Linked DNA regions of Homo sapiens: region 2 is linked to region 1. Evidence: fine-mapped expression QTL. A gene starts in region 1. The other region holds a variant in brackets. All regions are shown on one strand. Distances are from middle to middle. Region 1 holds the start of PTP4A3 (protein tyrosine phosphatase 4A3). Region 2 overlaps GPR20 (G protein-coupled receptor 20).

Region 1 (2,500 bases):
AGCTTGCCCACCTGTCCAGGATTTGCACGCACCTGCTCGGTGCCAGATGCTGGGCACTGGGGACAAACCAGGTGAGGTGTGGACCGTGACCTGTGTTGTCACTGATTGGGGGACTTTCTGGCAGAGTGGAGAGTGCAGTGGGCTGAGAGACAGGATGGCCAGTGGAGACTGAGCTCTCAGAGGCGGCGGCAGCTGATGGGGACCATGCAATGGGAAGGATGGAGGCCCTGGGATAGTCTGCGGTGAACTTCCAGGCAGAAGGAACAGCAGGTGCAAAGGCCTTTAGCTGGGAAGGAAACTCTGGGTTGGAGGAATAGCTTGCAGGCGCTCTGAGAGAGGCTGGCAGCCAGGTGGCAGGGAGGCAGCCCAGTCAGGTGGTCTTGGGACAGTTTAGGGTCTCTGGCCTTCACCAGTGAGGTGGTGTCTGGAGACTTTTGCAGACGAAGGCAGCTCTCACTCCCATCTTCCCGGGGTCCCTCTGGCTGCTGAGGGTGGATGGGTGGAAAAGCATCTTTCAGGGAAGTGGAGGCAGGGCTGGAGCAGTTGAACATCTGACTGGGCCAAGGGTCCAGGGACTGGCATGGAACAGGGCTGGGTGGGTGAGGCCGCCTGGGAGACCCCAGCTTGCCTCTGTTTCCCCCTGTACTGGGGCCTCCTGCGTGAACCAGCACTGGTTTTTCCAGTAACTGGAGCCACAAGCCTCCCTAGGAACGGCTGACCCATAAGAGGACGTCCTCAAGGTCCCCAAGGGCTAGAGGCTGAGATGCCGCCTTCGCCTGGGCGGGCCTCGCAGCCTGGAGGCAGGCGGTGGTGCAGCTCGGGCAGGCCCCGTCCACACGCCTCCCCGCTCTTCTGAGCACCACGCGTCCCGTGGGCTCCCTACCCGTCCTGATAACACGGCGGTCCGGGGGCCTCGAAGCCGGTCTGACCCCAAGTACCCGGGCCAGGCGGCTGCCGTCTTGTCGCCCCAGCCCATCCCCTCAGCCAGCCCGCCTGGCGGCACGGGACCTAGCCCCAGTCGACTTAGGGGGAAACTGAGAACTCCAGAAGTTTCGTGAACTCCCTGGCTTCGTCCGCATCCCGCCCTCTGCCTCTTCGCTCGGGCTTCAAAACTGCCCCTCCGACGCCCGCCTGCCCCAGGCCGACCTGGCCTAGGCGCCCGGCAGGCACAGGAGCCAAGGTCAGTCCCCGAGGCCGCCCGCGCGACCGGAGCCGCCTCCTCCCAGCCCAGGGGCGGCCTCGGGGGCGGCGGGCGCGCGGCCGCGGCGTGGGGAGCGCTCCCATTGGGCCGTGCCCCCACGTGACCCAGCGGGTCCGGCGCGCGCCCTAAGCCGGTGGAGCCGCGGCCGCGCCTGTGCGCGAGGGCGCGCGCGTCCCGAGCCCTCCACCCGTCGTGCCGGCGCCGCCCGGACCGCCAGGTCAGTCTCCTCCGCGCCCGCTCGGGGCGGGGGCGCGCGGCGCTTTGTGGAGGCGCGTGGGGGGCCGTCCGCGCGCGAGCCCGCCGCCCGCTCCGGGCACGGCTTCGGGGCCGCGCAGCCGGGAGGGCCGCCGCCTTCCCCCTGCCCGCGCGTCCCGGGACCCTGCGCCTGGCGGCCGATCCGGCGGGAACGTGGGCCTGGAGGCTGCCACGTGCCGGGGCCGAGCCTCAGGAGGCCGCTGTTTCCCCAGGCGAGCCACAGAACACCCCTGGCTGGAAGGGGGTGACCCGCTCCCGTTTCTGGGTGCGCGGGAGACCTCCTACCCTGAGTTCATCCTGCGCAGGGTCCCGCCCAGGATCTGGCTCTGCCCCCATTCACGGCTCATTTTCCTCAGCTGCACAGTTTGGGGGGCTGGAACCCCACAGCCTTCCGTGCCTCCAGGGCGGGTCGTAGATGTCAGTGGAGGTCAGGGGAAAGCAGAGCGTCAGGTCTCAGGCCGGGTGGAGTCCGCCTCAGACCATACCAGTGTTGGGACTCGGGCGGCGCCTCAGCCCTCCAAGCACACCCCGGTAGAATCAGGTCAGCAGCCTTGATCCACGTGCCTCAGGGATTAAACGGGTGACTCCTGACACGCCCCTGGGCAGCTGGTGGCCCAGGGGTGGGGTGGTGGCATGCTTAGCTCCAAGTGGGCAGAGCAGTTTCACCCTGCCGGTTCCCGGAGGGAAGCCCTTTATGAGGGAGGCTTCCCTGGCCCTCTGTGATAGCGGCTCCAAGGGCAGCGTGAGGTCCAGGCTAGCTGGTCACAGTGTGTGCCCGGGCACCCTCAGCCAAGACAGAAAGGCACGTGCTGCACCCCCTCTCTCTGCCTGCGGGCTCTGGGGTGTGCCCCGCACACGATGGTGGGTGTTGGGCATCCACCTAGTCTGTGGACCCTGGGGGCCCTGCTCCCAGGTTGGAGCAGTGTCCTCGGCTGCAGACCAGAGGAGGTCACTGAACACAGGGTGCCTGTGGCCTTGCACAGACAGAAGCCGCCTGGCAGCCCTGTGCAGAGCCGTGCTTCACTGAGTTCCTGCAATCCTCCC
Region 2 (3,000 bases), 29 kb before region 1:
GCAGGGACTGGCACCGTGTCCTGATCGTGCTGACATGGTGTTGGGGCTCAGGGCCTGGAGGCTGTGCCAGGGCTGGGAGGTTTCTCTTTTCCACTGGCCCAGGCCAGCTCTGCTCCCCACCCACACACAGGTACTTCCTTGGGGACAGAACAGAGGGAACGAGGGCCTGCTCTCCAGGGCTGAGAGTCAGTGAGTGGAGACCCAGCAGGGTAGGGACCTGGAGTGTGGCCATGGAGCCCTGGCTCTGGCCTGGATGGCCCTGCCAAAGCCTGGCTCCATCTCTGAACGGACTATGTGGCCTTACAGTCTCTGAGCCTCAGTTTCCTCATCTGTAGAGTGGGCAAAATAGAATCTCCCCTGGGGGTTCTTGTCCTGATGTGCCAGCCCAGAGTAGGGGCTCAGACACAGGAAGTGATGAAAGTATGGGACAAGCTGCCAGCGGGGGACCCAGAGGGCGAGGGGGCGAGCTCTGCTCCAACCTGGGTGTGCAGCCTAGACCAGGTCCAGCTCCCACACTACTCACTGCCCCCGCCAGCCTGGAGGGAGGGCTCTGACCTGGGTGGGTCCTCTCTGAGCCTCAGTGTCTCCTCCTGTGAAGTGGGAATGGCCGGACACGCTGCCCTGCATGGCTGTCTTGGGCCTTGGCTGAACAGAGCACCTGCTGCAGGTGTGGCGGGGCAGGGGCAGGTGTGCTGCGGCATCTCTTTCTTTTCTGTTTCTGGCCCACCCTTCCGGGTGGGCAGACCCCCAGAGCCCCCACCCCTCCAGGTGGGCACACCTCCCAGAGCCCCGGCCTTTCAAGGCTTCGCTGAGCTCCTCCAGGGGAGGGGGCAGAGGGTGAAGGAGGATGTCCCTCATGCCCTCCCCGTAGGTATCACATCACAAAACAGCCGTCCTAGGCGGGGCTGCCGCTGGGTTGGGGGTTCTCCCTGGGAGGGGCCTGAGGCCTGGACTGCTGGGCAGGGCTGGGGATGTGCCTCTCCAGTCACTGCACCTGACTGATGCTTCTGCAGGCGAAACTACTAGCGGGGCCTAAACACTCCATGCGCCCTCCAGGCCCAACCCCAAGCTGTTCCTGCTCTCTCCCTTTCGGCTTATTCATGCCCATTTTTAGGACTTCCCCCTGGACTTGCCTCCTTAAGGAAGCCTTCTTCCTCCCTGGGCTGCCTCTCTCTGGTGCATCCTCCCAGGGCACCCTGCGCTTCCTCAATCCCAGGGTTCATCCCACGGCGCTGCTATGTGCTGCAGGCTTCCCTGTTGGACTCTGAGCATCTTGAGGC[G/A]GGGCTGTGGGTGGGGGCTGAGCTCCCATCTGTTCCACCAGCCCAGCACCCAGATTGGCCTGGCAGAGAGCAGCACCCGTCTTCCCCCTTGTCTGAATGAACGCCCTGAGCAAGCCTCATCAGGGCTGGCAAGGTGTGGCCTGGTTTCTCAACCTGGCATTCAGGGTGAATGCCACCTGGCCTGGCCCCCTCTGAAACCTGCCTACCCAGTGTCTTGGTACTGGTCTGGAATTGGCTTCCACCCCCAGCCCCATCGTCACTACCCATGAGTCCTCCCAGCCGAGCAAGGCTGACACCTCCTCCCGGAAGCCCGTCCTAATCACTCTGACCATTGTGTCCACACTTACATTCCTTCCCACCCTCTATCTCCCATCACCACTCTTTCTTTCTTTCTTTTTTTTTTTTGAGACGGAGTGCTGTGGCGAAATGTCGGCTCACTGCAACCTCCACTTCCTGGGTTCAAGTGAGTCTCATGCCTCAGCCTCTGGAGTAGCTGGGATTACAGGTGCCCGTGCCACACCTGGGTAATTTTTGTATTTTTGGTACAGATGGGGTTTCACCATGTTGGCCAAGGTAGTCTCAAACTCCTGGCCTCAAGTGGTTTGCCCACCTTGGCCTCCCAAACTACTGGGATTACAGGCGTGAGCTACTGCGCCCGGCCCCATCACCACTCTTGATAGCAATGGTCTTTGGTTTGCAGGCCAGCTCTACCACCCGCCACCTTCGAGGCCTCGGGCAAATCATTTCATCACTGGGAGCCTCAGTTCCCTCACCTGGGACTTTGGGAACCATATTTGTTGAATGAATGAATGAAATCAGGCAGGGTGGCTGGACTAAGTGAGAAATACTGCAGACACCCCCAACATGGGAGGCGTGCGATATAAGAGCACGGGAGGCTCCTGGTTTTGGCACCTGGATGGGGCCCTGTGTGGACCAGCCCGCTCACACGTGGGGAGAGGCCAGGGCCAACACGTGTGCTCAGTGCAGGACTTCTCAGAGCCTTTGTGAAACTCACGGTCCTGGGAACTTCCAAGGGGTGGGAGCGAGCATCGAGCATGGAAGCTATTTGACCCTGTCCCCTCCCTGGGGGTTCCTGCTCCATCCATCCCAATGGCCACACCACTAGTCCATGCCCAGAGCACTGATGGGGGCTGCTGCCTCCCTGCCCTCACCCACAGCTTGTTGAATTTCTGCTGGGCACCCGGCCATGGAAGGCCAGACCCCTGGGCTTGGGGTGCTGGCACCTGCCCAGAGGCCTCCAGCGGGGCACCAGGGTCATGCCGGCCTCCGTCCTTGGCCGGTGGGTGGGGAGGGCTATGTCCTCTCTTCCCTGGGCTCCTCTCAAACCCACCCCACCAACCTGGGAGTTCTCTCTTGGCTGCCCAGCAGCCTGTCTGCCTCTGTCCTGCCACATGTGAGACCAGGCAGCAGAGTGGCCCCGGCCCCAGGGCAGCAGATGGCCCAGGGTGGCTGTTGAGCCTGCCTGGGGGTCTGGCTCAGGACCCTGTGTGCTGTCTGTGGACGTGTGGAGGACGGGCCCAGCCTTTTCCCCACAGAGGGGCTCTGAGCACCTGCTAAGGGCGCTTTGCATCCACACAGCAATCCCAGGTTTTACAGATGAGGAACCGGAGGCCCAGAGGGGTGAGTGGTGTCCTCACGGTTACCCAGCATGGAGCTGGTGGGGCTGGGAATCAGACCCAGGTCCACTGGCAGGACCCGG

Evidence for each region. PIP is the estimated chance that this variant, and not a neighbour inherited with it, causes the effect.
Region 2: its variant is fine-mapped to the expression of PTP4A3 in whole blood (TOPMed, PIP above 0.99).

The regions. Positions count from the first base shown.
Region 1 is chr8:141,390,667-141,393,166 of GRCh38, forward strand. PTP4A3 (protein tyrosine phosphatase 4A3) reads left to right here and starts at 1,355. Exons shown (of 6, transcript NM_032611.3): 1 at 1,355-1,418. It overlaps ASTILCS (antisense transcript of PTP4A3, liver carcinoma survival associated), which reads right to left and starts at 1,955. Exons shown (of 2, transcript NR_187488.1): 1 at 1,742-1,955; 2 at 1-485. RefSeq lists an enhancer at 427-1,047.
Region 2 is chr8:141,361,112-141,364,111 of GRCh38, forward strand. The region is part of intron 1 of GPR20 (G protein-coupled receptor 20); the gene reads right to left. Among named protein-coding and RNA genes, the nearest start is that of GPR20, 4.7 kb to the right of the region's middle. The variant G/A (reference allele first, on the strand shown) is at 1,281.